Homo sapiens: one gene and its partners. The main gene of each other region encodes a partner of the protein of the gene in region 2 in a complex. Each region holds a gene or a part of one and is shown on either strand. Other genes may lie near its edges.

The links.
Region 1: NME1 (region 2) and ANP32A share a complex: the UniProt entries of both Homo sapiens proteins name them as parts of the SET complex.
Region 3: NME1 (region 2) and TREX1 share a complex: the UniProt entries of both Homo sapiens proteins name them as parts of the SET complex.

The regions. Positions count from the first base shown.
Region 1 is NC_000015.10:68,814,177-68,824,759, forward strand, and holds the start of ANP32A (acidic leucine-rich nuclear phosphoprotein 32 family member A), read right to left. Parts: upstream 6,720-10,583; 5' UTR 6,576-6,719; coding exon 6,522-6,575; intron 1-6,521. UniProt on the Homo sapiens protein: Multifunctional protein that is involved in the regulation of many processes including tumor suppression, apoptosis, cell cycle progression or transcription. Promotes apoptosis by favouring the activation of caspase-9/CASP9 and allowing apoptosome formation.
Region 2 is NC_000017.11:51,149,157-51,160,277, reverse strand, and holds the start of NME1 (nucleoside diphosphate kinase A), read right to left. Parts: upstream 6,720-11,121; 5' UTR 6,616-6,719; intron 6,054-6,615; exon of another isoform or gene 5,905-6,053; coding exon of another isoform or gene 5,834-5,904; intron 4,628-5,833; coding exon of another isoform or gene 4,624-4,627; coding exon 4,498-4,623; intron 299-4,497; coding exon 197-298; intron 1-196. Other genes in the region: NME1-NME2 protein, read right to left, coding at 197-298, 4,498-4,623. UniProt on the Homo sapiens protein: Major role in the synthesis of nucleoside triphosphates other than ATP. The ATP gamma phosphate is transferred to the NDP beta phosphate via a ping-pong mechanism, using a phosphorylated active-site intermediate.
Region 3 is NC_000003.12:48,461,528-48,471,631, forward strand, and holds TREX1 (three-prime repair exonuclease 1), read left to right. Parts: upstream 1-4,702; 5' UTR 4,703-4,782; exon of another isoform or gene 4,783-5,102; 5' UTR 5,103-5,128; coding exon 5,129-6,073; 3' UTR 6,074-6,118; downstream 6,119-10,104. Other genes in the region: ATRIP (ATR-interacting protein), read left to right, coding at 2,218-2,354, 2,514-2,605, 3,055-3,135, 3,304-3,556, 3,960-4,027; SHISA5 (protein shisa-5 isoform a precursor), read right to left, coding at 7,580-7,659, 7,834-8,046, 8,201-8,316. UniProt on the Homo sapiens protein: Major cellular 3'-to-5' DNA exonuclease which digests single-stranded DNA (ssDNA) and double-stranded DNA (dsDNA) with mismatched 3' termini. Prevents cell-intrinsic initiation of autoimmunity.

The DNA of each region.
Region 1 (10,583 bases), on a different chromosome or scaffold from region 2:
GTTTTTTATTTCAATGTGATGTAATTAATTTGGACCCAAGCTCTGGGATGGACAGCTCTGAAAGCTCAAGCAGATGTCTTTCCAATGGTATTGAAGAAGGGGGCCAGGCACGCTGGCTCACACCTGTAATCCCAGCGCTTTGGGATGCCAAGGTGGGCAGATCACTTGAGTCCAGGAGTTTGAGACCAGCCTGGGCAACACGGCAAAACCCCGTCTCTACAAAAATTATAAAATAAATAAATAAAAAAGGAAACAAGTCTCATACTGCTATGGGGAAAGAAAAAAAAAAAGAAAGATGGCCAACTGTGTAAGTCTAGAGTAAGCCACCTTGAGAGGCTGGTGGTGCAGCAGCAGCAGGAAAGAGGGAATTGGGGCTGTGGTGTGCTGTCATAACACAGGCTGCTGTTATGGGGACTAGGATTTGTCCCCTTGAATTTATCTCCTCCTCCCCTTGACCTGGCCAATTTTATAACCATTCCTTCCGTTCATTAGCTCAGGCACAAGACGCTAGAGGGAAAAACTTCTGAAACTCAAAGCCACTATGCTGCTGGTTCATTCCCCAGGAAACACGCATGGTAGAAAAGCAGCAGGCCAAAAACTAGAGATTCCAGGATTATCTGTCATTTTCAAAGATCTGGGCTCTGAAAGGCTGATGTGAGCCACTGGGTGCACAGCTGCCCCGCCTTTGGTTCAAGCCTCAAAGCTCTAACCGTTGCAACCCAAAGCTCTTTCTATCTCTGAGATGACATCTAGAACCTAAGAGTGACCATTCAACTACAAGATACACAGAAGGCTTTGACATGTTCTGAGTACACAACGAAGAATTTCAGCTGGCTATACAGAACTCTAGACGAGAAGTGCTTCATACTAAACCAGTAACAAGGATAATTTCTCTTCCTATGGAGGTTCCTGGGTTGAGGCTGATTTCCACTAGGCACCAATTACTTACAGGGCACAGAACACATAAAAGGACTTAAAAAGACCCTGAGAGTACCACCCAAATATATGGCTTGCCATTTGCTTAAACAAAGCAAAACACTAGATCCCTGGGGCCCACCCTCCAATCTACTGAACCACCTTTTCAGCAAACCTCTTCTGCAAAGGGGGCAGATAGTAAACTTTATCAAGAGCCAAAATTAAGAACACTACATAGGGACTTTTATAACAAGAGAAAAATCTAACACATTTCCACAATTCTTTTATTGATAAAGTTCAGAATATATTGAGTACAATTTTTTTTTTGTAACGAGATCTGTTAACGAGACAAGTGGATTTCTTATTTTTTGGGAGAATAACATTTCAAGTCATTGGGATTCAAAGAGTGTTCCATACCATCAAATTGACTGCAACGTTTATATGTACAAATAATTCTTAGCTCATGACTGTACAAAAATTGGGAGCTCAGTTATAGTTTGGTGATTGCTGTGGTACTCCTGTGATTGGGGTGGAGCCCAGGAATCTGCATTTTACATGCCTCTCACGTGATTCTGGTAATGGGCCATGGACCCAATGGACTATCCAATCCTCGGAATCTCTGTCCACCAAAGGGGCCTGTGGTTTTGCAGTGCGAGAACCCGGCTGTGCCACCTACCAGTTGCTCAACCTCTCCAAAAATCAGATGATTCATCCTCACAACAGGGGTGGCATTGCACTGCTTGGCCTACCCTTAAAGAGTTGCTGGGATGATTAAGTGAGATGATCCATGAGGTGCTATGAGCATACTATGTCCCAGATACTAAAGACATGCCAGTTATGTTGAGTTTTTTTGGCTGCAGATGCAGACTGCCTGAGCAGCTCCTGCTTGTCTTCTCCTTACTCAAAATGTGTCCCCCAGCACCTTGAAGGCCAGATCCACTTCAACCTAACCCACTGTGATGTGCTAAAGCAAACTCAGTGCAAGGCTTCATAAAATGATAATCCACAGCCCCTGGTCCTGAACCTCCTGGCCCTCTAATATCTCCAACCAGGATGCTATCCACTCTTCATTTCAGCGTCTTCAATAATAGAAAACTCATTCTCTTTCTACGGTGGCACCACTCCAAAGCTGGAGAAGAAAAAGCTCTTCCTTACAGTATCTTAAGAAAAAAAGGGTGTTTCAAAGGAGGCAGTAGAGTGTAGAGGTTGAGTATGCAGACTGGCTGAGTTTGAATCCTGGTTCTGCCACTCACTGGTCACATGATAACCCCTGTATGCCTCAATTTCCATATGCACAATGACGATGATAATAATAATACCTACCTCATAGTGCTGTTGTGGGGACTAAATTAGTTGATACATGTAATCCACTTAAGAAATGTGCCAGACACAGCGTGGTTGCTATGTAAGCACTAGCTAATATTGTTATTATCCTAAACCATGGAGGAGCTCAAAGTAATGCCTGGAAGCACCCTGATATGTCTCCGAGACTAAAACTGTCATATAGACAGCATATACTGAGGGCCATATCAAACCAATTTTGTCATCATTTACTGATTAAATAGGATTATTCCGTTTTACAGGTGAAGAAACAAAGCTTCAAAAAGGTAGGTTAAGCTCACCAGCCCAAGGTCACAAGGGCAGGTAAACGTATCCTACCTCCTTGTGGCAGGAGGAATTCAAACCCAGGTCTGTGTAATTCCTAAGCCCATCTTCATCATGGAGCCCCTCAGACTCGAAACTACTATCAGCAGCAGAACTCAACTGACTATGACCACAGGGGAACTCAGGCTCAATTTTCTGCCTGCGAGTTCCTGGTTGGCTTGCATAAACTGTAGTTAATATCATGCTACTTGAACCCAATTAGGCAGTAAGTCAGCCTGGAAAACATCATGCGATGTATTCCAAAGGTCAAAGTAAAAGCTGGCTTCCAAGGCAGCCTCTGCTGGACACTGCCATGAAAGTTAGTTTCTGCACAGATACCAGAGTTCAGCTCGTGAGGTGCTTAACCAGCACCTATATCGGCTTTTTAAAATTCTCAGAGATGCCAGCATCGGAGGACCCGACGCGACGAATTGCCTGGCTCCTAAGTCAACATCCGGAGAAAGGCGGTTTACTTTTTTCAAAAGCAAACCTTCATCCCTCTCTTTCGCTTTAGGATCTCATTACTATTGTAGCTGCCTTCTCCCAGGCAAAAATAAAAGGGGGAAGGAGCAGGTTTAGACCGAGGAGGAGGGTTCCCCTAGCCTGCAGGGCGCTGCAACATCCACCTGAAACACGGAGCTCGACCTACCTTCCCGGAGAGCCCAGCCCGGGAGGGCGTTTCCCCAACGGATCGACAACTCTTCCCTCCCGGGGAACAGGCTGCTGTCCTTGGCTTCAGTCAGGGCCACTAGAGTCGCGTGCGCGACACCCCTCACCCCCGCCAAAAGAACCTCATGTTTAATGTTCCCCTTACTCTATCACTTCCGCCGAAAGAGCAAACACCAGAGCGATCGGTTAGTCCTTAAGGCCACATTTAACTACGTCTGAGCGCCTGCAGGAGGAACGGCGAAACCCCGGAGAGGAGGCGGGGGAGGCAGGGAGCGCGTGGGGGGGGGCATTTGCACAGAGGATCGTCGTCCTCCCGGCGCCGCGGCCGCCGTGACTCTCCAGCACAGCCTCAGGCCGTTGGCGCGGGGCGGAAACCCCCATCGGGGCTCATAGCACAACTGGGGGTCCCCAAAGCCGGCTCCCCCTGCCTCCTCCGCGCGGGAGGCCGTCGGGGTGATGGCGCAAGACTCCGCTCCCCCCGCCCCCCACAGCGACAACAGCCACGGTGACAAAATGGCAGCCCGGCGCCCGGCAGTCGTGCCACAGGCGCGCAGGGCCCTGGAGGCGGCTCCTGCCCCCCAGTAACGCCTCGGCGCCCTTCGGGCTCAGCCCCGAGTGGGCCTAGCCGTTAAAAAAAATAAATAAATAAAAATAAATAAATAAAACACCTGGAACTCAAAACCAGCCTAGAAAGCCACAAGGCCGGCCCCGCGCGTACTGCACCCCCGCCGCCCGCCTGCCAGCGCCCCGCGCCACATGGAGCCCGGAGCCCGCATTCCGAGCCCTGCGCCCCGCGCCGGGGAGGAGGGGCGGGGCGTGCGGCGCGAGCCCCGGGAAACATGGCTGCTCGTCCTATTTCGGCGTCGCGGCATGGCCACCAGCTCCCGGAGCCCAGTTGGGAGAGGTGCCGAAGGTGGGTGTGTGGGGGGCCCAGGGGCAGCGCGGCGGGGAGGGGCGCAGGGGGCGCGCTCCGGGAGCCATTTGTCTTAAGAACGTTTAAAAAAATACAGTTCCTCCTCCCCCAACCCTTTTGTCCCTCTTTCGCTAGCTTTCTCCCCCTCCCCCGCAAATGTGCAGAAAGTGCCCCCTCCTCCGCCACCCGCGCCCCACCCCGCCTCCAGGCAGGGGGCAGGCGTGTGGGCCGCGAGGCTGGGAGGCGAGGGGGCGAAGCGTGAGAAATCGCTCCCAGTACGGCGCGGTGCGCTCCCCTCCCCAACACACACACACACTCGTGGAAGTTTAAAGAGCCGGTTCGACCCGCTTTCCTGCTTGCTCCCGGGGGGCCGGCAGCGTCGGTCGGGTTCGCCAGGCCAGCCGCGCCCCCGCACCCACCCGCGGCGACCCCGGCCCCGCGCTTGGCGCCCTTCCCCCTCCGCGCAGGGGGCTTCCGGAAAGTACGCGGGAAGACCGCGGCCCCGGCCCCCTCCCCCATCACCACACCCAGCCCCCAAACGCTAGGCGCCGGGTCCCGGCCGGGACGAAAGCGGCCGGAGAGAGGCAAACCGCCCGCAAATAGTGCGCGGAAACTCCGGCCTCCACCGGCGGCGCCCCCTCCTCTCCCGCGGCCGCCCCCTCCCCGCCCTGCGCGCCATAAGGCACTCGCACGTCTCCAGTCCACAGCTGCGTTAAGGCGGGGAGGGGGTAGACAAAAAGGATCTTGTTTTCAAAAGTCTCACTCAGGTTTGGGGGAGGAACTAGGGAAAAGAGGAAGCGAGGCCTGCCTTCGCCGGGATTCGGGTTTAACGGGCTAGAGGGGCGACAGGCCAGCGCACGGTGCTGCCCAAACTCCCAACTCCATGGAGCTCGGGCCACCGAGACTGGGGGCGTCCTCCCGCCAGCGCGTCCCCGGTCCCCCCAAGGGGCCAAGAGGGGAGCTGGCCAGGGTCTCCGCCCCAGAGCCGCCAACTCGCCGAAAACACTCAGGTTTGAAAGCGAGAGGGAGGCAGAAATAAAAACCAGCGTTCGAGTCACCCACCCTCACCTTCCCCCTCCTCAGGGGTAAGCTTTCGCTCGAGCCTCGCGATTCCCACCCGTGTAAGTTTCCTCCGGCCGTGCTCCCGCCGCTGCCCAATCAATAACGGCGGCTAGCGGGCAAACTCCCATCCTAGAGCTGCGTGTTTGCCATGCCCGCATAAACGTGGACCCAGCCAGTACCCACCACGGGCGCCAGCTCCGGGCAGCTCGCGTCCTGACAAAGTTTCCCGTGCCCATTTATTAAGCAGGCGCCGAATGGCTGCCGACAAGCCCAGCACTGAGAAAGACGGGCCGGGGGTTCGAGCTGGGGGGCACCAGGGCCCAAAGGCTGGCATCTTGGGGAAGCCGGAAGGAGCTGGGGCGAGGGGGCACCGGGACGTAGCCTTTGGGCAACTTGCACCAGCGATCGCTGGAGGCAGGGAGACGCGGGGATTATCTGTGCCTTAGCACGTTCGAAAATCCCTCCCCCTCCTTCTAATTTATCCTCCCTTCGGAAGGAAAGGAAGAAACATCAGCATCTGGCCCGAAGGTGGGGTGGAAAGAGTGAGGGAGAAAGAGGAGGAGAGGAAGGGAGGCAGAGAAAGGGAGGGAGGGAGAGAAAGGGCGCGTTCACGAACACTACAAAGTTACAAATATGGCTCCCCCGTCTCTCGCCTCATCACTGCAAAGAAATGAAGACGCACTTTAAACTCCAGCCATTCCCAACTCCGCTGCAGCCCCCTCCCCACGCGCTCTCCCCGGGGGCCTCGGCCCACATTTATCAGAAACTAAACCGGACTCGCGAAGCCCCAAACTTATTGTGTGTGCGAGCGAGCGAGCGAGAGAAAGGGAGGGGGGAGGCGCGGGAGGGGGGCGGAAGGGGGGATACATTTATAAAATGTAAAACCCCCTTTTTTTGTTGTTAAATCCAGGAGGCAGCCCCTCTCCTCCTCCTCCCTCGTTAATCTTCCCCCCAGACGGAGTCACGGGAGCAGCGATCTCCGAGGGTGATTTCGCCTCATTCTCTCCGACCCAAACGCGTGCGCCCGCCGGCCCCCGATGGGTGCACACTCGCACGCACACTCTCGCACCCACACTCGCACACGCGGGAGCACACGCACAGGTAGTCACACACCAAGGGCAGCGGCGGCGGCAGCCGGAACATGCTCGGATGGCATTGCAACCCCCCAGCCTTGCCAATTCGCTTGCAGTCCGACCCCCAAACCCGCACCTCCCGGGCGCCCCCCCCCAAAAAAAGTGCCTCCCCCCAGCGCGCACACACACACACACACACAAAGTAGGAGAATGGACCGACAGAGATATTTTTGGCAAATGCTCACATCAGAGGGCGTCCTGTTCCGCAGCTCTAAATGAATCCGTCTGCCCATCTCCATCTCTCGCGCTCTCTCTCTGCAGAGGCTCCCGCGCCGGCGGAATTCAATCAATAAACCCCGAACCCACGGCCGCGCGTTTTAGGACTTTGAAGGCTCAACCAGCTCCGCTCGGTTCTCGAGCCCCCAGCACCCGCGGCGCACACTAACCTGATCGCCGTGGAGGCGGGATCTGCGGCCCCATGGACGAGCGGCAGCGGCCCGAGCCAATCGCCGCCGAGGGTCTCCGGGCAACAGCCAATGGCAGTGGCGGCGGGGGGGGGAAGGGACCAATGGGCGGGCTGCGCAGCCGGCCAGGGAGGCTCGGCCATTTGGTAGTGGTGCCGGAGACGGACCCCTTTAGATTTCGGGGCGGCTGAGGAGCGCGGCGGCTGCTCTGTGGCTGAGTGAGGGGGGTGGGCGGAATGGCGGGGGAAGGGAAGGTGACTGTGCCTCGAGGGCCGAGCCGCCCGGCCTTGCCAGCCAGCCGCCGCCTCAGCGTTCGGCCGGGGGCGGGGCCGCAGGTGCGTTCTGCGAGGGGGAGGGGCGCGGCCGGAGGGGTCGGGTCGGGGTCCCCGCCCGGCCGAGGGCTTCGCGGGGCGGCGCGACGGGGTTGCGGAAGGAGGCGGGCGGCTTGAGGTCCGGGGACCGCGGGCTGCCCAGCGGGAGGGCAGATGAAAGGCCTGGAAGGAGGAGAGGGGTCAGGGTGCAATGCCGGGAGGGGCTCGTCGGGTCCCGGGTCCGGCGGCTCGCGCTGGGGAGCGTGGCTGCCCCCGTCACCCCCACCGCGGCTGCCCAGCAGCCCGCGCGCCCCTTCCCCTCCGGCCTCGTCCCTGTCAGGCCGCCACCATCGCCACCCTCGTATACATAAGTCAGTAAAAGCAAGATGCTTCCACTTTTGGATGACTTACCGCGCGGTCGCGACCCTTCCCACGAAGAGGCTTTTCACTTTGCTGTCATATTAGGTCAGCTTGGAAGAAGTGATCACCAAGAGACACCCAAGATCTTGTTTAGGCAATAAATGAATGAAGACCATGGATTAAGAACCGTTGCTAGATATGTAGAATATTAAAAGGTGGAAAAGGAAGGTGCTCATAACTCCTGGTTTTCTGGACCAAACATAATTTCTGGGCTTTATAGACCTAGTGAAAGAGAACGGCGCACGGTTTATTCTAATCGTCCACCTGAGTCATTCGGTTCGGTTTGGGTTGCCAAGGAGGCTCTAACTGGAGCCCTTTCTCCTGGTTTTTCGGCGTGGTTGCCTTGGGTATTTTTGAATCACATTAAGTTTTAAGAGACCTTAAAGCCCCGATGCCCACTGGGTTACCGACTTACGGCACTAAGTTGGCTGCCTGTGGCTGTTAATAAACCACGGGGATTGTTGTCAACGAGGACAGATACATCCTTACCTTTCCACACGACTGTATTTTAGTGTTTGTTTCTACATGTCTGCACTCTTCCCCACACGCCTCAAGGTAGTTTTTCTGGATACATATGTTTATTTTTCAGGAACAGGAGTTCAAAGGAGAGATAAGCCAGTATGTATGTTGCAAAGTTAAAATACTGTTGCATAATAGCAATCCAGTTTCATTCTTAGACATACGAAGTTGAGGAGGAAATAAAAAGTGACAATGTAAATAAAACACATACAGAATGCTTACACTGGGGAAGAAGCTGTAGTAACTTTAATATTGCAACCTGATGGATTGCAAGTGTAAAGCCCTGCAACTAAGGATTTTACTCAGTAAATTCTTTCAGATAAAATGATAAATGGAATTTGAAGTCTGATGTTTACTCTGATTAGGTGGGAAATGCACCATAAAAGTTAGAAGTCATTGTTTTATTTTATCTGGGTATAAATAGTATAATTTATTTAACTTGTTGACTTGCCTGTCATCCTCAGATTTTGTTAATCTTATTGAAGCCTATTTGTATAGTTGGAATTTATTCTAAGTTTTATTGGCTTCTTTGTAATACATGAGGAACCCCAAATTTCCTATTTATGCCATTGAGACAGTTGTTATTTCTGGATATGGTGTTTAGGATTGTATTCAAACAGAACTCTTATCAAAACAGGTCAATATGGTGTGTATGATCTGTGTAACATAGGAGTCCTGAAGTTTGTGTTCTCTTTGATGGTAAATGTTCATTTTCAATTTAAAAGTTTAACCACAGTTAAGACCACGCTGCTAGCAATGCAATATGAGACAGTGTCTTTCCAGAGGAGTAATCCCTTAAAAACCAACCAATCAAATGCAGAGATATGCCCCATCCAGCTTTGCTAAATAGAAGCAAATAGCTCACTTTATTGTACAAAGACTCAAGAGGAAGACTTAGAAGCCCACCCCCTCCCCCATTAAAGAGAAAGTACAGAAACAAATTAGAATCGAAAAAATCATGGCCTGATTACTAAATCAAAACGTTAAATGTGACAGTTGTTTTTAGAAGCATCTTACATTTATACATTTTGATGACTTTTGTATTAATGTTAGAAAATTGAAAGAAGGCTTCACTGGATGTCAGTCGTTACAGAAATTGAAATATCCAAAAGTATATGTATAACCAATTGAGTAATTTCCGCTTTCCTTACACACTTGAAATAAATTTTCTTTTGCTTTTACAAATAGATCTATATGTAAGAAAATTTTCATATGATTTTGCTTTTTTATTATTAAAAAAGGAATATAGTAAAGCCAAAGCTGAGCTGTATTTGCCCCACACAACATGACCAAATATAAAAAAAACCACTGCTCTTACAAATATCTTATTTTACAAAGTTGTTTTTTAAATTACATTTTATTGTATATTATAATAGTAAATAAGTGTTCTAAGTGGCACTGCATTTCAGAAAATATAGAAAGAAATCCCATATCAAGGAATCTTGGCTGAATTTTGAAACGGAGTTGGGAACAGGTAAGAGTTCCTATCTACTGAGTAATTCTACAACAGGAATTGTGTTTGAAAGATGTAGAGTCTCTAACCTCTGAAACTAGGTTTGAGTCACACTGAGAAGAATAAATGAGATACAATTCAAAGTTTAACCCCCTAGAGAGATAGATGGCCCAGGAAGGAAAGATCTTCCCGCCTTCCAGAATATCCTCCATCAAGAACCATTCCAAATAAATGAGCAGCCTATTTTGTTCTCAAAGACATGAACAATGAGTGTCCTTAGGCTCTTTTGAAATGTGTAGGAGAGTACTGTTTTACAAATAACCATATCGTTACTATTGCCATTTTATTAGGTTGGTGCAAAAGTAATTACCATTTTTTTTAAAAAAGGCAAAACCACAATTACTTTTGCACCAATAGCACATTTGCCCTTGTTTGGTCTCTAAAGATGGAGACCCTTTGGTTAGCATCCTTTTTATGAGTCAAGCTAATATACCCACAGCTCAACTTTTTGTTCTTGAGCTTGAATCACATCACTGGCAATCGGCCGTAGTACTCTCTTACCTACATCATGGTTCTGCTGCTTGGACCCCAAAGACAATGACATGGAAAAACTCCAGCTTAATTATGTTCTTTTTTGTTTGTATATGTAAATAGTTTTTAGGAATGTAGATTATTATTTTGAAATCTGTGGTAACAAATGTGAAAACCACTACATTTTATTTATTTTCATTGAATAGCAAATAATGTTGAAGCCTGGGATCTAAAAAGTTAAATATTATTTTATTTTGCTTAATAAAGTATTGGATAATTTAGAAAAAGAATTTTTTTTTAATGATTGGATAGTTACCTTATTAATGGATTGGTCAGGGAGAAAAAGCCCTGTTGGATGAAAACTGTCATATATGTGACTTTTAAAGTGAAATTAATAAGCCAGGCATGGTGATGTTCCCCTGTAGGCCCAGCTACTTGGGAGGCTGAAGTGAAAGGATCACTTGAGCCCAAGAGTTCAAGAACAGCTCGGACAACATAGCAAGACCTGTTTCTCTAAAAACAAAAAACAGTAAAAATCTTAAAAACCGCTTAAAGATGGTTGGTTTCTTTTAAAAAGGAAAAAAAGGCTCAGGTGCAGTGGCTCACGCC
Region 2 (11,121 bases):
CTAAAGTGATCATTTGCTACTCCTATTCATTTCTGGGCATATTTCATTTCTGAAGCCTATCACTAACCATTAGCTGGTATATGAAAACAGGTATCTATTTGGTCTCATTCATGGCTGTATCCCCAGTGTCTAGAAGAGAGCCTAGCACAGATGACAAGCAATGCATACTTGGAGTATCCCACACAGGCACACTCACCATGGCAACTACCGGCCCTGAGTGCATGTATTTCACCAGGCCGGCAAAGAATGGACGGTCCTTCAGGTCAACGTAGTGTTCCTTGAGAAGATCTTCGGAAGCCTATTCAACAGGACAGAGAATGAGAATAACCCCCAAACCATCTAAGGACATATAATCCATTTAATTTCCCCTCATCCACCCTGCTATGTAAAACATGAGCGGTTGGGCTCACTGATTCTGTTATAACCCAATTCATTCTCCACACTGGAAGGGAGCAGTGACAGGACTAAATGTACTTCTCCAATTTTATATCAGTTGTCTCCCTATTGGCACTGACTGATAATAAAACCACAGAACATTAAAATTAAATCCAGCTATCTCATTTAAAAAAAAATCAAACTCCTGGGCTCAAGTGATCCTCCTGCCTCAGACTCCCGAGTAGGTAGGACTGTAGACACACACTACCAGACTTGGCTAATTTTATTTATTTATTTATTTATTTTGAGACAGAGTCTCCCTCTGTCACCCAGGCTGGAGTGCAGTGGCGTGATCCTGACTTACTGCAACCTCCACCTCCTGGGTTCAAGTGATTCTCCTGCCTCAGCCTCCCAAGTAGCTGGGATTACAGGTGGCGGCCATCATGCCTGGCCAATTTTTGTATTTTTAGTAGAAACAGGGTTTCGCCATGTTGGCCAGGCTGGTCTCAGGTGACCGCAGGTGATCTGCCTGCCTTGGCCTCCCAAAGGGCCGGGACTACGGGCGTAAGCCACCGCGCCCAGCCATACCTGGCTAATTTTAAAAAATTATTTGTAGAGATAGGGTCTCACTATGTTGCCCAGGCTGGTCTCAAACTCCTGGACTCAAGTGATCCTCCAGCCTCCGCCTCCCAAAGTGCTGGGCTTACAGGCGTGACCCACCATGCCTGGCCCTCAACTATCTCATTTTAGACAGGAAAATCAACAATACAATAAATTTCCATTCCCAGAGCAAACCCCAAATAAAATGTTAGAAGGACACCAGGAAGCAAGTCTTGGCATTTAATGAGCAGCAAACTAAACCAGGCCATTACCCAGGGATGCTTCACGTTTATTCAGAGGATAAAAGCCCAGCAGTGATGACCATGTGATTACCAAAGGTATCTGCAAATCACCCAAAAGTGCATGACATCTAGTAATAAATAATTTTGCTGAAAAATGAATTAGAACCTCTCATACTGCAAGGCTAATATGTGGGAACGAATCAAGTTAGCTAGAGAACAAACCATCTGCTTAGCAGTTTCAACTCAGTTTGGCTGTGTTCTCTCTTGTACTGCATATACGCTTGTTAAAATCTAACAGGGTCCCATGGTTTTTCCAGCTCTGTGGTACTGCACTGTATGACGCATATCACACACATCAGAGACACACACAGATGTGGAGACTGGCTGCCCAGAAGCCCCATCATTCAGCCACCAGTTATCATCACTTGCCAAAGTAAAATTACATGGCCATATAATCACTCCGTGGTAGGGATCCAACCCTCGCCCTGTCCTTTCCTATCCAAATGGAAGACTTTTGTTGTGGAAGTCTAACAGACCCTGAGGTGACCTTCCCTTATCAGAATACTTTTTTAATTCTATTAATTGGTTCCAATTATCTTTTTGTTGGTTTTGTTGTTTGTTTTGAGACAGGGTCTTTCTGTCACCCAGGCTGGAGTGCAATGGCATGATCATAGCTCACTGCGGCCTCAAACTCCCAGGCTCAAGCAATCCTCTTGCCTCAGATTCTCAGTAGCTAGGACTACAGGTGTGCACCACTACACCCGGCTAATTATCTTTTTTTGAGACAGGGTCTTGCTCTGTTACCCAGGCTGGAGTGCAGTGGCTCGATCTCCGCTCACTGCAACCTCCACCTCCCGAGTTCAAGCCATCCTCTCGCCTCAGCCTCCCTGGTAGCTGGGACTACAGGCATGCGCCATCACACCCAGCTAAATTTTGTATTTTTAGTAGAGACGGGGTTTCACCACGTTGGCCAGGCTGGTCTCCATCTCCTGACCTCAGATGATCCACCCACCTTGACCTCCCAAAATGCTGGGATTACAGGTGTGAGCCACCACGCCAGGCCCTAACTGATTATCTTTAGTCTGCAAAACAGATCACGGGCTTTTTTTAAGGGCTTGGGGGTTGGGAACCTCAAGTTCTCCCTTGCTTCCTGCCTCCACACCAGATTTAAATGCCCCTTTAGAGTCATGGCAGCTATCCTTCCGTCCATTCTTCACCAAACCCATATATCCTTAATAGGAAATTCAATGTAAAGGAGAAAGTATCTGCACTCAGGGGTCAGAGAGACTCAAGTTAAAATTCCAGTGGCATCACTGTATGCTATCAGGCACATCACTGAACCTCTCCAAGCCTTAGGTTGCTCATCACTAACAACCACGAGAACAGGAGTAAGTACTTCTCAAGGCTGGCATGAAGACTAAATCAGAAAACATATGTGCCCAGCATATGGTAAATGCCTGATCAACAACACATCCATCTCATGTTACCTTCTGCTGTGATCTGAATGTGTCCCCCAAAGTTCGTATGTTGGAAATTTAATCCTCGATGCAACAATGTTGGGAGGTGAGGCCTAATGGGAGGTGTTTAGGTCATGAGGGCTTCACCCTCATGAACAGATTAATGTCTTATCTCAGGAGTGGGTTTGTTATAAAATCAACATCAGCCCCCTCTTGCTCTCTCTCACTCTTGCACTCTCTTGCTATTCCATTCTGTCATGGGATGATACAGCAAGAAAACCTTCATTAGATGCCAGCTCCTTGACCTTGGACACCATATTCTCCTCTCAGCATGAACATCAGTCTACCCTCTTTTACATTAAAGCAGTTTTTCTTTTCTTTTTTTTCTTTTTTTTTGGAGACGGAGCCTCCCAAAGTGCTGGGATGACAGGCGAGTCACTGTGCCAGCCCTAAAGCAGTTTTTCTAAAATATCACATAGGAAGTAAATTGCAAGTCAAACTAAATTTTAAAATGCACTAGAAGGGTCCAAAATTGATTCCCTTTTAGAAAACATACTATCCCCTATTTGATTTGAGAATTGGAATTCTTTTTTTTTTTTTGAGACAGAGTCTCCCTCCCTCTGTTGCCCAGGCTGCAGTGTGGTGCAATATCGGCTCACTGAAACCTCCGCCTCCTGGGTTCAAAAGCAATTCTTTTTTTTTTTTTTTTTTGGAGATGGAGTTTTGCTCTTGTTGCACAGGCTGGAGTGCAATGATGCGATCTCGGTCACTGCAACCTCCACCTCCCCAGTTCAAGCGATTCTCCTGTCTCAGCCTCCCGAGTAGCTGGGATTACAGGCGCATGCCACCACGCCTGGCTAATTTTTGTATTTTTAGTAGAGACGGGGTTTCATCATATTGGTCAGGCTGTCTCGAACTCCTGACCTCAGGTGATCCGCCCGCCTCAGCCTCCCAAAATGCTAGGATTACAGGTATGAGCCACCGCACCTGGCTGGTTCAAGCAATTCTTATGTCTCAGCCTGCCGAATAGCTGGGATTACAGGCACCCACCCTGATGCCCAGCTAATTTTTGTATTTTTAGTAGAGACGGGGTTTCACAATGTTGGCCAGGCTGGTCTTGAACTCCTGACCTCAAGTGACCAGCCTGCCTTGGCTTCCCAAAGTGCTGGGATTACAGGTATGAGCCACTATGCCTCACCCAGCCGAGAATTTGGATTATCTCTAGAATTTGTTTGAAGAAGGGTTATTGGTCAATCAATCCTTTGCATTTATCAAAAGATTGCTTTGTAAGTAGCTTGCAGGTACATCTGCTCTCTGCTGTTTCTGAAGAACCTCCCCAAAACCAAAACCATAGTTTTCCTCCACCAGCTCCTATGATACCTAATATATGCTAAACAATAAGCATTTATTAGTGTCTAGTAATTGATGATGGAAAGACTTTCTTGCTAAAAAACAACCTGTCTCAAAGGGGGAAAAAAATCTCTCTAAAATTATCTGCTCAGGAAGCTCAAGACCAAGAACTCAAACATGCTCAGCTCTCAGTCAGAAATTACAGAGATGCAGTCATATGTGGAACTCTGCACTGCTTTTCCCGTAGCAATGCACCTCCTATTACAGAGACTATTTTGGAAAATCCTAAATAACTTGGTTTGTTCCAAGATGTAGCCAAACGCTAGGGCACTGAGGAGTTTCCAGGTCTCAAGACACTTGTGTTCACTCTACCGTGGAGAACTTTAAATAAGAAAGACGGGGAGAAACAGGTTAATCACAGTGTTCTCCTATACTATGAAGGAATCAAAATGGGAACAATGAAGTCCACTTACTTGCATGAATTTCAGACCAACAAGGCGGAATCCTTTCTGCTCAAAACGCTTGATAATCTCTCCCACAAGACCCCGCTGGACCCCATCTGGTTTGATCGCAATGAAGGTACGCTCACAGTTGGCCATGGTTCTGGGGATAGGCAGGTAGAGGAATGAAACAGCAGTGAATCACTTGCCTACAGCGTCATCCGTCTCAAGCGGATTATCCCATAAAGCTGGTTTAAATCTGTCAGGTCAGCTCCAGGTCTCCCTCTGGTAAAAACCCAATTCCTCCCCAGTCCCCTGATCTATGAACTAATATGTCAATGTGGGAAAGGATCCAAAAGCAAGGACTATAATTTCTATCCCATTTGATTTATTTTATTTTCATTTGTTTTGGTTTTTGTGGGGTTTTTTTAGAGATGGGGTTTCGCTATGTTGCCCACGCTGGTCTCGAACTCTTGTCCTCAAGTGATCTGCCCACCTCAGCCTACCAAAGTGCTGGGATTATGGCCATGAGCCACCACACCCAGCCCCATTTGATTTTTTTTTTTTTTTTTGGTATGGAGTCTTGCTCTTTCGCCCAGGATGGAGTGCAGTGGTGCGACCTTGGCTCACTGCAACCTCCACTTCCCAGGCAAGCAATTCTCCTACCTCAACCTCCTAAATAGCTGGGACTACAGGTGCGTGCCACCACACCCAGCTAATTTCTGTATTTTTTTTTACTAGAGATGGGGTTTCACCATGTTGGCCAGGCTGGTCTCCAACTCCTGACCTCAAGTAATCTGCCCACCTCAGCCTCCCAAAGTGCTGGGATTAAAGGCGTGAGCCCCATGAGCCTGGCCACCATTTGATTTAATAAGCTTCTTTTAAACATCTACTGTGTACCAAACACTGCGGTGGAACTAGGATACAGGATGTTAAAAACAAGGCACTATCTTTCTCAATAATCAAGCTTGGGAGAAACTACACTGATGAAAAGTTTTACTAATGTGAAAGTGATGTCCGGTACAAAGCAGTAAGAAATAATAGTTTGACTTAATGCCACAGCCATAGCATTAGGGGTTTTAGAGAATATATCTTTACAACCCCCTTCATTTTACAAATGAGGAAACAGGACCACAGCACCAGAATGAAGGCCAAAACCCAGCATTCCCAACCCATTAATCCATTCTTGTAATGTTATGCTACACTTTACAATGCAAAGAATATTTTGACTAGCCAATAAACGGTGGGGTGTGGGAGAACTACAGACATTAGGAATATCTGATACGGGACATCATACTGAAAGGAAGCCTAGAGAGTAACTATTCCGTCCAGATCCCTCATTTTACAGAAGACTGCGCTCATGACCTACCCTGTATCACAGCTTGAGATAGGAGGCCCCTCGCCTTGAAAGACGATCCCTAAAGTAGACAGTAGCACCATCTCTTGGCCCCATCTTCCTGTCCTTTAGTTAACCTCTTCTTACAGCATCTTAGCACTGTAGTCCAATTTTCTGTTTGTGTGTCTGCCTCCCCTGCACACCAGGCTGACTTAGTCCTGTGTAGAGACTCTATGGTACCTAGCCACAGGGCCTAGCAGTCAATAGGAGCAAAGAAAATCATTTATCACCATTCTGCAACTTCCAAAAAAAAAAAAAGAGAGAGAGACAAAGCCCAAAGACTGCGGAGAATCGCACGATGGGGTGCGGGGCAAGCATAAATTGTCCAGGAGAAAACAGGACTAAAGCGCCAGAAATACACCCTAAAAATGTCCCTCCACATCGGTCCCGGTGACACAACAGTAAGCACTCAGTGCTTGCTGAATGAATGACACACACACCCGTCATTTATTCAGCAAGCACTTACAGAGCGCCAACTCCGTGCCCGGCACTGCTCTCGACAGACACAAATAAGGCACAGCCCTGTCGTCGCGGCCTGACGAGAAAGGCGGCCACCGACAAAGGCGAGTCCACGTGGCGTGGGACGTGCGCCGACCGGTCTGCACTTGTCCACAGGCGCTCCCTGCCCCTCCTCCCATCCGATCCTCCTCGCCGCCTCTTAGAGCTGAACTCATCTCTTCACTAACTCCTCACCTAACCCACTCCCGCGACTACACTCCTTTCTTTTTCCTCTCAGGATCCCGAACACCTCTTACCCTTCCAGCTGCTTAGGTTTGAACTCCGGCTGCAGCCGCCAGCACCCGAAACGCGCCCGGGACCCACGTGGTTCGCAGCACTTGCACGCACGGAACGCTTCTGCGCAGATCCGCTGCCGGAGAGCCCATTTTGCAGAACACCGCTCGCCCACGCTTCCTCTTGGGAGTAGGCAGTCATTCTAGGGAACAACTTTCTGCAGTTTAACTTCCGGCGCTAGCTTTTTCAGACCTTTCCGGTTAGCTGCTTGCTTTCTTCTCTCCACCCCCGGGTTCTCTGACTCACTTCCTTCGTTCGCGAGCAAATTGGCTTCCCGAGAGGTGGCGCTCACACGTTGCGTGAAGTCCAAAGAGTGCCTGACCTAGAAGTAGACTTTTCGCTCCCGCTTTGTGTTTATTCACCTTTTCTAGCCTGTCAAGCAAAAAATTTTGAGTACCTACTACGTGGACGCATTATTCTAGGCCCTAGGGATAAAACAGTATGCTCTCTTGGAGCTTCTGGGAGGGATGGGAGTATAGGAAAACAAGAAGCAAATAAGCAAATTAATATGTAATAGATCGCATTTTGTAAGTGCTGTGAAGAAAAGGCCAGAGAAATCTCTGAGTAAGTGATAATAGAATAGACCTGCATGAAGTGAGGGAGCCAGCCCAGTGATTCTTCGAGAGCCAAGTATTACGGTGGACATCGAGTGGTGGAAAATGCCGTTAGAATAGAGCCAAATCTTATGTTGTGAGATGCTAATACAGATTTTGCACAAGGCATGACATCATCACTAACAAAAAAACATTCCCACTGCTCTAAGGGGAAATGAACGGGGGAAAGGTACAAAAATGGAATCAGGAGCCGTTTCAACAAATGATGCTGGAGCAATTGGACGAATATAGACCCAAAGAACCTCAACCTAAACCTCTCACCTTATACAAAATTTACTCAAAATGAATCATAGATTTAAATGTAAAACAATAAATCACTTATGGGGAAAAAAAAAGTTAAAAAAAATCCTCAGGACCTAGGGCCAGGCAAATAGTTTTTAGACGACACCAAAAGACCAATCTATACAGGGAAAAAGTTGATAAATTGGAACTTACTGAAATTTAAAACTTTTGGCCGAGCGCGGTGGCTCACGCCTGTAATCCCAGCACGCTGGAAAGCAGCGGCGGGAGGATCACTTGAGCTCAGGAATTCGAGACCAGCCCGGGCAACATAGTGAAACCCCGTCTCTACTAAACATACAAAAATGAGCCGGGCGTGGTTGCAGGCGCCTGTAGTCCCAGCTACTCGGGAGGCTGAGGCAGGAGAATCGCTTGAACCCGGGAGGCAGAGGTTGCAGTGAGCCGAGATTGCGCCAGGGCACTCCAGCCTGGGTGACAGAGCGAGACTCGGTCTCAAAAAAATAAAAAATAAATAAAATAAATAAGTAAAATTTCATTATTCTCCTGTTTTCTTTTTTTTCTTTTTGAGACCGAGTATCGCTTTGGCGCCCAGGCCGGAGCGCAGTTGCACGATGTCGGTTCATTGCAAACTCCGCCATCCGGGTTCAAGCGATTCTCGTGACTCAGCTTCCCGCGTAGCTGGGACTACAGGCGTCTGCCACCACGCCCGGTATTTTCTTTTTCTTTTTTTTTTTTTTTTTTTGAGACGGAGCCTTGCCAGGTCGCCCAGGGTGGAGTGCAGTGGTGCGATCTCGGCTCACTGCAACCTCCGCCTCCCGGGTTCAAGCGAATCTCCTGCCCCAGCCTCCCGAGCAGCTGGGATTACAGGTGCCCACCACCACACCCGGCTACTTTTTGTATTTTTAGGAGAGACGGGGTTTCACCATGTTGGCCAGGTTGGTCTCAAACTCTTGACCTCGTGATCCGCCCGCCTCAGCCTCCCAAAGTGCTGAGATTACAGGCATGAGCCACCGCGCCTGGCCCTAATTTTTGTATTTTTAGTAGAGACGGGTTTTCACTATGCTGGCCAGGCTGGTATCGAACTCCTGACCTCAAGTGTTCCATCTGCCTCGGCCTACCAAAGTGCAGGGATTACAGGCATGAGCCACCGTGCTCGGCCTTTATTTATTTATTTGTTTATTTATTTATTGAGATGCAGTCTTGCTCTGTCACCCAGGCTGGAGTGCCTTGGCGGATCTCAGCTCACTGCAACCTCTGCCTCCCACGTTCAAGTGATTCTCCTGCCTCAGCCTCCCGAGTAGCTGGGACTACAGGCGTGCACCACCACGCCCGGCTAATTTTTGTATTTTTAGTAGAGACGGGGTTTCACCATGTTGGCCAGGCTGGTCTCAAACTCCTGACCTCAGGTGATCCGCCCACCTTGGCCTCACAGAGTGCTGGGATTATAGGCGTGAGCCACTGTGCCCTGCAGAAAAGAAATTTAAAACCTTTGTCCTGTGAAAGACCTTTTGAAGAGGACGAAAAAACAAGCTAGAGTGGAAGGAAATATTTCCAAACCACATATCAGATAAAGGCCTTCTCTTCATTTGAAGGTTTGAATATTTGAAGAACTCTGAACGCTCAACAGGTTAAAAAAATCCAATTAGAAAATGGGCAAAAGACATGAATAGACATTTCATTGAACAGGATATACAGAGGCAAGAAAGCACATGAAAAGATGTTCAACATCATTAGCCACCAGGGAAATTCAAACTAAAACCAAAATCGGATATTACTACATGCCTATCAGAATGCTAAAATGAAAGTAGTGATACACCAAACGCTATTAAGGAGGTATAGAAACTGGATCCACATTACTGGTAGGAATATAAAATTGTACAGCCACTCTGAAAAAGTTTGATAGTTTCTTTTTTTTTTTTTTTTTTTTTTTTTGAGACGGAGTTTCGCTCTGTCGCCCAGGCTGGAGTGCAGTGGCGCGATCTCGACTCACTGCAAGCTCCGCCTCCCGGGTTCACGCCATTCTCCTGCCTCAGCCTCCCGTGTAGCTGGGACTACAGGGGCGCGCTACCATGCCCGGCTAATTTTTGTATTTTTAGTAGAGACGGGGTTTCACCGTGTTAGCCAGGATGGTCTCGATCTCCTGACCTCGTGATCCGCCCGTCTCGGCCTCCCAAAGTGCTGGGATTACAGGCGTGAGCCACCGCGCCCGGCCGATAGTTTCTTAAAAAACTAAACATGTGCTTACCATATGACCCAGCCATTGCACTGTTGGGCGTTTATCCAACAGGAATGAAAACTTATGCTCTGTTCACACAAAAACCTGTGCGCAAATGTTCATTGCAGCTTTATTTGTAATAACCAAAAACTGGAAACAACCCAAATGTCTTTCATCATGTGAATGGTTAAACAAACTATGCTACATCCATACTGTGGAATGCTACTCAACAATAGAAAAAAATAACAAACTATTAATACATGCAATATACATAATTCCCTTGGATAGATTTCAAGGGAATTATGCTGACTGAAGAAAAGCCAAACATAAAAAGTTATCTATTGTATTATTGCATTTAACATTTGTGAAATATTAATAACAAAAGTATAGACATAGAGGATAGACTAGTTTAGTGGTTGCCAGGAATTAGAGATGAGGGAAAGGGCCAGGTATGGTGGCTCTCACCTGTAATCCCACCACTTTGGGAGGCTGAGGCAAGAGGATCTCTTGAAGCCAGGAGCTCAAGACCAGCCTACACAGTATAATAAGATACTGTCAGAGGCTTTCGAACCAGAGCAACTCCATCTTAAATAGGGGCTGGGTAAAAAGAGGCTTAGACCTACTGGGCTGCATTCCCAGGAGGCTAGCCATTCTTAGTCACAGGATGAGATAGAAGATCGACACAAGGGCTGGGCACGGTGGCTCATGCCTGTAATCCCAGCACTTTGGGAGGCTGAGGTGGGTGGATTACCTGAGATCAGGAGTTCGAGACCAGCCTGGCCAACGTGGTGAAACTCTGTCTCTACTAAAAATACAAAAATTAGCCCGGCGTGGTGGCGCGCGCCTGTAGTCCCAGGTACTTGGGAGGCTGAGGCAGAATTGTTTGAACCCAGAAGGTAGAGGTTGCAGCGAGCTGAGATCGCACCACTGCACTCCAGCCTGAGCAACAGAACAAACCTCCGCCTCAAAAAAAAAAAAAAAGATCAACATGAGACACAGATTACAAAGACCTTGGTGATCAAACAGTGGTAAAGAAGCCGGTCAAATCCCACCAAAACCAAGATGGCAACAAAAGTGACCTCTGGTCACCCTCACTGCTCATTATATGCTAACTATAATGGATTCACATGCTAAAAGACACTCCCATCAGCACCATGACAGTTTACAGATGCCATGGAAACAACCAGAAGTTACCCTATATGGTCTACAAAGGGGAGGAGCACTCAACTGGGGGAGAGGGGAAATTGCCCATCCCTTTCCCAGAAAACTCACAAACAATCCACCCTTGTTTAGCATATAATCAAGAAATAACCCCTCTGCCTGTAGAGTAGACATTCTTTTATTCCTTTACTTTTTTTTTTTTTTTTTTTTTCAGACGGAGTCTCCCTTTGTTGCCAGGC
Region 3 (10,104 bases), on a different chromosome or scaffold from region 2:
AGATCTGTTTCCATCTGAATATTTTTGGTTGGTCTGGCCCATGCTAAAGGTGGTACTCAGCTGGACACAGCACTGCAGTGTAGTGTGGGCAGTGGGATCAGGCAGACTCAGGACTCAAGTGCCCAGCAGGGGCCCAGCTCATAGTGGCTGTTTTTTTTTGTTGTTGTTTATTTGTTTGTTTTTGTTTTTGTTTTGAGACGAAGTTTTGCTCTTGTTGTCCAAGCTGGAGTGCAGTGGTGCGATCTCGGCTCACTGCAACCTCCACTTCCCAGGTTCAAGCAGTTCTCCTGCCTCAGCCTCCTGAGACGCTGAGATTACAGGCACCTGCCACCACACCTGGCTAATTTTTTATATTTTTAGTAGAGACAGGGTTTCACCATGTTGGCCAGGCTTGTCTCAAATGCCGGACCTCAGGTGATCCACCTGCCTTGGCCTGCCAAAGTGCAAGGATTACAGGCGTGAGCCACCGGGCCCAGCCTTGGTTATTTGTTTAATAATTGTTAAATGAATGAATCCCAGGCTGGGCACAGTGGCTCCTGCCTGTAATCTCAGCACTTTGGGAGGCCAAGGTGGGAGGATCACTTGAGCCCAGGAGTTTGAGACCAGCGTGGGCAACAAAGCAAGACTCCCAGCTCTACAATTTTTTTTTTTTTAATTAGCCAGGCATGGTGGCAGTGAGCTATGACCATGCCACTGCACTCCAGCCTAGGTGACAGAGTGAGACCCTATCTCAAAGAATCCCAGAAACCATGTTTTTACTGGTGGTAGACACACCATTATTCCACTCCTGTTGAGCTTGTCCACAGGGACATTCAAAACACAGCCACAGCTGGGCATTTATCTATTTCATGTACTGGGGCTCTTCATAAAATTTCATTTAAAGAGGTTCTTAGGGGCTGGGCATGGTGGCTCACGCCTGTAATCCCAGCACTTTAGGAAGCCGAGGTGGGTGGATCACGAGGTCAGGAGATCGAGACCATCCTGGCTAACATGGTGAAACCCCGTCTCTACTAAAAATACAAAAAAGTAGCTGGGCGTGGTGGCAGGCACCTGTAGTCCCAGCTACTCGGGAGGCTGAGGCAGGAGAATCGCTTGAACCCTGGAGGCGGAGGTTGCAGTGAGCTGAGTTTGCGCCACTGCACTCCAGCCTGGGTGACAGAGCGAGACTCAGTTTCAAAAAAAAAAAGTTCTTAACGCTATCAAAAAATAACTTGGAAACCACTGTGGTGTACATAAAAGTGGATTTTCCTTGCAGTACCTTCTGCAAGTGGCAGATATTGGACATCTTACAGCCCAATAATGAAACCAGGTAATAACCATGTTAAAATTCCAGCTTCCCACAAAGGGCTGCACACCCTGGCAACTAAAAAGCATTGAACTTTTTGTCTGCTGTGCAGGATTTGCCCTAAAGTGAGTTCACCCCACATAGTGAGACCTTGCTTCCTAAGGACACACTGAGGGATATCTTGACCTTCTGTGCTTAGAAACTGCAGATGTCTGAAGGGGTACACACCTGGCCAGACCCCATAGAGTGTTTCAGAATTGCCCTCCTCCCCACCCACCAGGCCAGTCCATCGTGCTCCCCCAGGCTATGTGGGTTGAGCAAACAGCAGCAGTTGCCTTGGGGCTTGGTTTATTGGGGTAATAGCTTTCCTTTTGCCCCTGAGACCTGGGGCAGTATGCCCAGAACCCCTCCCTCCTGCACACCCCACAGTAGGCACATTCTCCCACTGGCAGCAGATGTGTTTTCTGGCAAGTAGAGAAAATGGCTTTCCTTGCCCTGTGAGAGGTCTCATAAGATCCAGCCATAGCCAAGGCCATGTTTGTCACCTCTGGAGGCCTGGTCAGTCCTTCTGTGGGCACAGAACATTTCTCTCCCACCTAAGTTAGGACCTGCATCCCTGTTTGGGAGCATGTGGAAGCCAGGCATCCCAGATCCAGGAGGTCATCCCACTTCCTGGGCGATGCTACACCAGATAAGGGCCTGTCCTCTCAGCTGCAGCAGTCTTGCAGTGGAAGTGCCCACTTGTTCACATGAAACAAGTTTCATAGCAAGTAAGTAGGGGTCAGGCCAGCACTGAAACCCAAGTCTGGCTGAACCAACTCACCTGTTCATACTGACTTGCTCAATTTTCTGTTACCTCTAGTGGAGTGTGAAGGTAGGTTATGGAGCTGGGGTTGGGGAGTGTCACGTCTCTCTGGGTCCCTGTCTTTTAGGTTCCAGTGTGTGTTCCAAGTGCTGCCAAAGTGCCTCAGCCCAGAGACACCCCTGCCTAGCGTGCTGCTGGCTGTTGAGCTCCTCTCCCTGCTGGCGGACCACGACCAGCTGGCACCTCAGCTCTGTTCCCACTCAGGTAAAGCAGGGTGGGGCGGGCGTCTAGACTGCTCCTGCAGATCAAGGGAAGGGTTGGGGTGGGAACAGGGTCAAGGGCCTCAGAGGGCTTCTGCAGTATGTAGCCCACGCTCTTTATGAGAAAGGGCACCCTGAGTGAGAGGTGCGCTGTCCTTTTCAGAAGGCTGCCTCCTGCTGCTGCTGTACATGTACATCACATCACGGCCTGACAGAGTGGCCTTGGAGACACAATGGCTCCAGCTGGAACAAGAGGTAAAAACTCCAGAGCCCCTTCTGGACACTGTCCCCACCCCATCCTAAGAACCAACAGAATCTCCTTTCTTTCCGCTGAGGAGAAACGGAGCTTTAATTCATTTTAGTAACAAGAGTTGATAAAGCAACTAAAGAGGTAAACTCAGTTTGGGGGCTGTGCACCACACAGATGCAATGCAGACAGGACTTGGCAGAGTTGCCTGATGACTGATCCTGTCTTGGCTTTGGGACGTGGGGGCAGAATAGGGGGCTGGAGGCAGGTGGGTTGCTGGTGACACATGAGTGCTTGTCCTGGGTCTTCCCTGGGAAGGTCCCACACCACTTCTTGGACCCCATTTGTGCAGACAAACAGTTGCTGAAGCAAGTGAACTCTTATAGAAGCTTAAGAAAACCCTCGCAGGGACTGGTCTCCTTCTGCCCAGGATGGAACCAATCTGTTCTTGTTCTAGGTGGTGTGGCTCCTGGCTAAGCTTGGTGTGCAGAGCCCCTTGCCCCCAGTCACTGGCTCCAACTGCCAGTGTAATGTGGAGGTGAGTGGGTAGGGGCCAACAGCTGGCAGCTCTGGTGGTAAGGGGGCCCCGTGCAAGGACTGTAGGCCCCACTGCAAACCCCCTCACGTGAGGTGGCTAGGCTGAGCGGATTGTTAGGGTGCAGGCCATGGTGGCACCAGGCCTCAGTCTGCACCCCCCCTCTCTCAGGTGGTCAGAGCGCTCACGGTGATGTTGCACAGACAGTGGCTGACAGTGCGGAGGGCAGGGGGACCCCCAAGGACCGACCAGCAGAGGCGGACAGTGCGCTGTCTGCGGGACACGGTGCTGCTGCTGCACGGCCTATCGCAGAAGGACAAGCTCTTCATGATGCACTGCGTGGAGGTCCTGCATCAGTTTGACCAGGTGATGCCGGGGGTCAGCATGCTCATCCGAGGGCTTCCTGATGTGACGGACTGTGAAGGTAAGCCTGCCAGAGGCCATCCTGCCCAGCCCCCATGGCTTCTTCCAGAGGTTCCCCAACAAGTCAGATTCCTGGGTGTCCCCTCAGCAGGCCCCCGCCCACTGCAGCCTGTTCCAGCACTGGGGCCATTTTCTTTTATCTTCCTGCCTCAGTTCTTCTCCAAGCATATTGGGATGCCTTTTGCATCTATCTGTTGAGTGTGCCTGGCAGAGCCACGGTTTTTCCAGAAATAGCCGTGTCTGAATTGCCTTTGTATCACTTTGTTTGCAGTAGCTGAGGGAGCAGGGCCTGGGTGTGGAAGGGACTGGTTAGTTCCTGCGGACGTTGGGGGAGGAGAGGTGGGACCTGCCCTAGGCCCTGGCACCTTTGGGCCCTCACCAGGAACCTCTCCTTTTTGTCTCAGAGGCAGCCCTGGATGACCTCTGTGCCGCGGAAACCGATGTGGAAGACCCCGAGGTGGAGTGTGGCTGAGGCCCTGAGTGTCCAGCCACATGGTGGCACCAGCACCACTCCTTTCCTTACCACATCAACTGATTAAAGCAGTGACCAGCAGGAACTGCCCAGAGAACTGGCTGGCCTTGTTTCCTGAGTCTGATCTGTTTGGCGGAGTGGGAGGGGTGGAGCAGGACCCGGACCCTGAGTGGCTGGGATCCTTCTTCCTGTCCCTGGCTGTTGCTGAGCCCGTCCCCATGGTAACTGATCTGCCTTGAGGAAGGAGCCCTGCCCTGCCTGTGGAATTGTCCTGAGTCATTGCTTTGGGCTGGGGCCATGGGAAGAAACCATTGTGTGGCAGGGAAGGAGGTGGCTCTTGGCCCAGGCCTAAACCAGGAAAGCCTGGGAAACTGGGACCCACAGGTGGGCATGAAAGGGCCGCAGCAGGGGCTCCCAGCAGTGTGTAAGACCGGGAGCTGGTCTGGCACCACTGCCCTGGTCCTTCCAGCTGCCTGTCACTGGTATGATGGCCCCGGTGCATTGTGCCACCAGCAGGCCACAGCTGTGGATCTTGGAAGGCCTCTGGGGTCCCCCGGGAGCAGGGGAGTGGGTGTGGGGGGGAACGGATGGTGGTGAGAGGGACAGACCAGGCAGGCTGACGAGCAGGGCGGGCCTGGCTCACGTGGGCCTGTAGGCGGGCCCACGCCAAGTTTCACTTCCCGCCACTGCTGCCAGCGAGAGCCGCGGGAGAGTGTGCAGCCGAGTCACTACTGCCTGCCTGCCTGCCTGCTACGGTGAGTGTGGCCCCCACAATGGGATGGCGCAGGGCAGGAGGGCCATGGGTTCCCCCACCCCAGACTAAGGGGGCACTAGGGGAGGGGCCGAGTCATGTGAAGAGGGAGACCCTCTCAGACAGTCGAATGTGCTGGTCCCACTAAGGAAACCACCTCACCCTCTCCAACTTCCTGCCTGAAAATGGGCCCTGGAGCTCGCAGACAGGGCAGGATTGTGCAGGGAAGGCCTGAGATGTGCTTCTGCCCACCCCCTACCCCACTCCCTCCCCTTCGGATCTTAACACTGGGCACTCACACACCCACCCCATGCTCCTCTCCAGGCTCAGCAGCAGGTACGTACCCAACCATGGGCTCGCAGGCCCTGCCCCCGGGGCCCATGCAGACCCTCATCTTTTTCGACATGGAGGCCACTGGCTTGCCCTTCTCCCAGCCCAAGGTCACGGAGCTGTGCCTGCTGGCTGTCCACAGATGTGCCCTGGAGAGCCCCCCCACCTCTCAGGGGCCACCTCCCACAGTTCCTCCACCACCGCGTGTGGTAGACAAGCTCTCCCTGTGTGTGGCTCCGGGGAAGGCCTGCAGCCCTGCAGCCAGCGAGATCACAGGTCTGAGCACAGCTGTGCTGGCAGCGCATGGGCGTCAATGTTTTGATGACAACCTGGCCAACCTGCTCCTAGCCTTCCTGCGGCGCCAGCCACAGCCCTGGTGCCTGGTGGCACACAATGGTGACCGCTACGACTTCCCCCTGCTCCAAGCAGAGCTGGCTATGCTGGGCCTCACCAGTGCTCTGGATGGTGCCTTCTGTGTGGATAGCATCACTGCGCTGAAGGCCCTGGAGCGAGCAAGCAGCCCCTCAGAACACGGCCCAAGGAAGAGCTATAGCCTAGGCAGCATCTACACTCGCCTGTATGGGCAGTCCCCTCCAGACTCGCACACGGCTGAGGGTGATGTCCTGGCCCTGCTCAGCATCTGTCAGTGGAGACCACAGGCCCTGCTGCGGTGGGTGGATGCTCACGCCAGGCCTTTCGGCACCATCAGGCCCATGTATGGGGTCACAGCCTCTGCTAGGACCAAGCCAAGACCATCTGCTGTCACAACCACTGCACACCTGGCCACAACCAGGAACACTAGTCCCAGCCTTGGAGAGAGCAGGGGTACCAAGGATCTTCCTCCAGTGAAGGACCCTGGAGCCCTATCCAGGGAGGGGCTGCTGGCCCCACTGGGTCTGCTGGCCATCCTGACCTTGGCAGTAGCCACACTGTATGGACTATCCCTGGCCACACCTGGGGAGTAGGCCAAGAAGGAAAATCTGACGAATAAAGACCCCCGCTGCCCCATAGCACTGAGTGGTCAATTGGCTCCTACCCTTCTTGGCAGCACAGACCTCTGCCCACACCCAGGGACCTGGGGAGGAGGGCACAGTGTTTGTCCCTCACTTTCCCTAGCAGGATGGTCAACTATCTGAGCCCAGTAAAAGTAGGGAAAACACAGAGAAGCCCAAATGGATGGAAAGAGTACAGCCTGATTCCAATTCCAGCAGCCGAGGCCAGGAAGAAAGGGGGCAGCAGCTCCAAACGATTGCATTTATTATAAACAAGTGTACAGACCCTAGACTCAGAAACACAACAGATTTGAGCTAAGACAGCTCTGGTGAAACAGTAATAGAGGGAGGAGGAACACGAGGTATTCATGTCTGGGCCAGAGCTGCCATCCAGGGCCCCACACCCCACCTTTGGTCCAGATGGCCCATTGGCCCAGGTGTCCCTGCTGCCAGAACACCGTGGACTGGGGTACAGGAGTTGTTGCATATTCCATGAGGCTGGTGTCGGGAAGCAGGGACTCACAGTTGCCAGGTTGTCCATCTCTGAGCCAATTTCCCTCCACAACCCAGGGGTTTCAGTCTCATATCAACTATCATGTTTGAAACAGAAAACAGGCAAAATGTTTGGCTAAAATAAAATGAAAACACTGCAGGGAAGAGAACTGAGTGTGCTGGTGGACAGGAGCCCTGCTCACCTGTGGGAAGGGCAGGGCCAGCAAGGGCAGCAGAGCTCCCTGGGGGCAGCTAGGCTGTGTGTGCATGTGGCCCTCCAGCTGGTCCCAGGGGAGATGCGGGGACAGGGGACAGTCCAGGCAGACAGGTACAGCTGAGTAGGGCTCTGCCTGAGGTGTTCTGGCATCAGGAGGCTGCCTGATCCCCAACAGGCATGACAGGCTCCAGGGAGCAATGGGACATCTGCCCAAAGGATCAAAGTCCAACTTGGCCAGATCCCAAGCTTCGCCTGCATCATGTCCCTGGCTCTGCAACGGGTACCCCCAACTCCGGGGACGAGCCATGGCCTCAAGCAGCAGCTGGCTACGCTGCCGAAACCAGGACACATCTGCATCACACAGAAAGCTGCGCCACCCTGGTGTGACAGGCCCTACTTGGTCACCCTAGGGTAAGCTGGAGAAGAACTCCAGATGTGCCCTGGAGAGGCCCCCACCTCTCAGGGGCCACCTCACAGGGTGCCCCCCACCACCCCATTCTTTGAGTTTGGCTTGAGATTTTAGGAAGCATAATTTCAGGTGAGGAAGAGAACAAAGTCTGGTCCCAGCCCACTCTGGCAAGGATTGTTCCCCACCTTGTCAGCATCAGAGGAAGCCACATATACAGGCAGGACACACACAGCACACATGGGGCGTAAGGAACCGTGCCTGGACACACACAGCACACATGGGGCGTAAGGAACCGCGCCTGCACACCACTCACGCACACACACAACATAACCAAGTGGCAGCCAGAGAGGCCAGGGAATGCTCAGAGGGCCGCCTTCGGGGCATCCATGTAGGCCGGGTTGTAAGGAGGCTGGCTGGCGGGGTAGGGCGCGGCTGCTCCTCCTGAAAGCAGAGAGGACCCTGGTTGGCTGTGAGCATGGTGGGCTGCCGTGTGAGTGGCAGGCAAGCAGAAAGGGGCAGAGGCCTGTTGAGTGATGTAGTTTGGGATGGGTGCCCGAGGGATGCTGGCAGAGACTCGGGAAGTCGGGCAGGGCTAGAGTTGGCAGGGGCACTCACCAGCCAGGGTCTCGTGGTAGGCCGGTGGGCCCATGGGCTGGGCTGGGTAAGGTGGTGGGTACTGCATTGGGTAGGGTGCTGCTGGCATCCCTGGCTGAGGCGGCATGGTGTGGTAGCCCTGGTAGCTTGGTCCAGGGTAGCTGGGCGGCACACTTGGAGGCTGAGGATAAGGGGCATGCACCACAGTGGTGGATGTGGTGGTGGTGACAACCGCTGCAAAGAGAATTCCAGTCAGGACCCTCCTCCATCTCCCCAGGTCTTGAGAGCCAGGCTTGCCACCCATCCCTCCAGCTTAGCCAAAGCAGGGCCTGGTCAGCTTCCCTTACCACCCCAGGGGGTCACAGTGGGGCAGGGTGGGCACGCTTACGACGTGGTCGGCGGCACGTCTTGTAAAGGCAGCAGCAGGAGCAGGTGAAGCAGATGATGATAGTGACGACAGACAGCACAAAGATGGTCAGGCCAACGGCCAAGGTCGCTCCGAACCTGCCAAAGAGCTAGACGTGACCCGGGGCACCTCGCCCCTCCCCAGACCAGCATCCACACCTTCCCAAGGCATGCCCCTCTTGCCAGAAGGGGTCTGGGCAATACAGTTATAGCTACTTCCTTGTCGGGTGGCCTGCACCTGTTTCAATCTGTTTCCTCTTGTGTAAACTGGGGTATATGTGAGTCCCTGTAACTGTCTCTCCCTGGGTCTCCCCCGCTTGTCCCACCCTCAGAGGCATGGGAGGAAGCTCTTCAAGTCCCATGCCACACACATACATCTATCTTGTCCACCTCACAACCAACTGATCAGCAGATGGGTATAGGGCACATGCCACAAGCCAGGCACTGTGATTTGAGTCAAAAAACTTAACAGTGGGCAAGACAGCCAGCCCTGGCCTCTGGGAGCCCACAGTCCAGTGTAGGAGGCAGACAGTGAAGATAACATGGCTCACAAAGCACAGGGTGAAGACTGAGAGAAGCCCCAGGAGGGCAGAGGCCAGTGTGGCCAGAACAGGAGGCCCCCATTGTTCCCCTGCACTCCACAACAGCCCCAGGGCAGGGAGGCTGGCCCCTGAGTGATAAGGACAGTTGCCTCTGCCTGCAAGCTTGCTGTATGCCAAGCACCGTGCCAGGGGTCACACACACCCCTGGGTCCCCCACCTCTGACCTGCATGGCCACTTCCACAGGTGAGAGGGCCAAGAGCCAAGGGGAGGACACAGAGGCCTGGAGGCAGGAGGCCAGAGGGCCTGCCCTTTGAGAAAGCAGGCCCTGGGCTGGGAAGCTCACCAAAATTGACTTCTAGGAGGGGGCAGTGGCTCATGCCTGCAATCTCAGCACTTTGGGAGGCCGAGGAGGGCGGATCACCTGAGGTGAGGTGTTCGAGACCAGCCTGGCCAACATGGTGAAACCCTGTCTCTACTAAAAATACAAAAATTAGTCGGGCACGGTGGCGGGTGCCTGTAATCCCAGCTACTTGGGAGGCTGAGGCAGGAGAATCGCTTGAACCCGAGAGGCAGAGGTTGCATTCAGCCAAGATCACGCCATTGCACTCCAGCCTGGGGACAGGAGCAAAACTCTGTCTCAAAAATGAAAGAAAAAAAAAAAAACCTGACTTCCAAATGCAGACAGAGCCCCTTACTAGCCACCCTGCCGTGTTTGCAGAGGCCAAGCTTCATTCTTTTTCTTTTTTAATTTATTTTTTGAGACAGGGTCTCACTCTGTTGCCCAGGCTGGAGTGCAGTGATATGATCACAGTTCACTGCAGCCTCCACCTCCCAGGCTCAAGTGATTCTCCCACCTCAGCCTCCCCAGTAGCTGGAACCACAGGCATGCACTACCACATTTATTTTTGCAGAGACAGGGGTCTCACTATGTTACCTAACTGGTTTCCAACTCCTGGCCTCAAGCAATCTTCCCTCCTCGGCCTCTCAAAGTGCTGAGATTAAAACTGTCTCGTGGCCAGGGTGCGGTGGCTCATGCCTGTAATCCCAGCACTTTGGGAGGCCGAGATGGGCGGATCACAAGGTTAGCAGTTTGAGACCAGCTTGGTCAACATGGTGAAACCCCGTCTCTACTAAAAATTAGCCGGTAGTCCCAACTACTCAGGAGGCTGAGGCAGGAGAATCGCTTGAACCCAGGAGGTGGAGGTTGTAGTGAGCCAAGATCGCACCACTGCACTCCAGCCTGGGGGACAGAGTGAGACTCTGTCTCAAAAAAAAAAAAAAAAAAAAAAAAGTCAGCCTTACATTTTGTACTGGATGATAAAAGATTTTAAAAAATAAAAAACG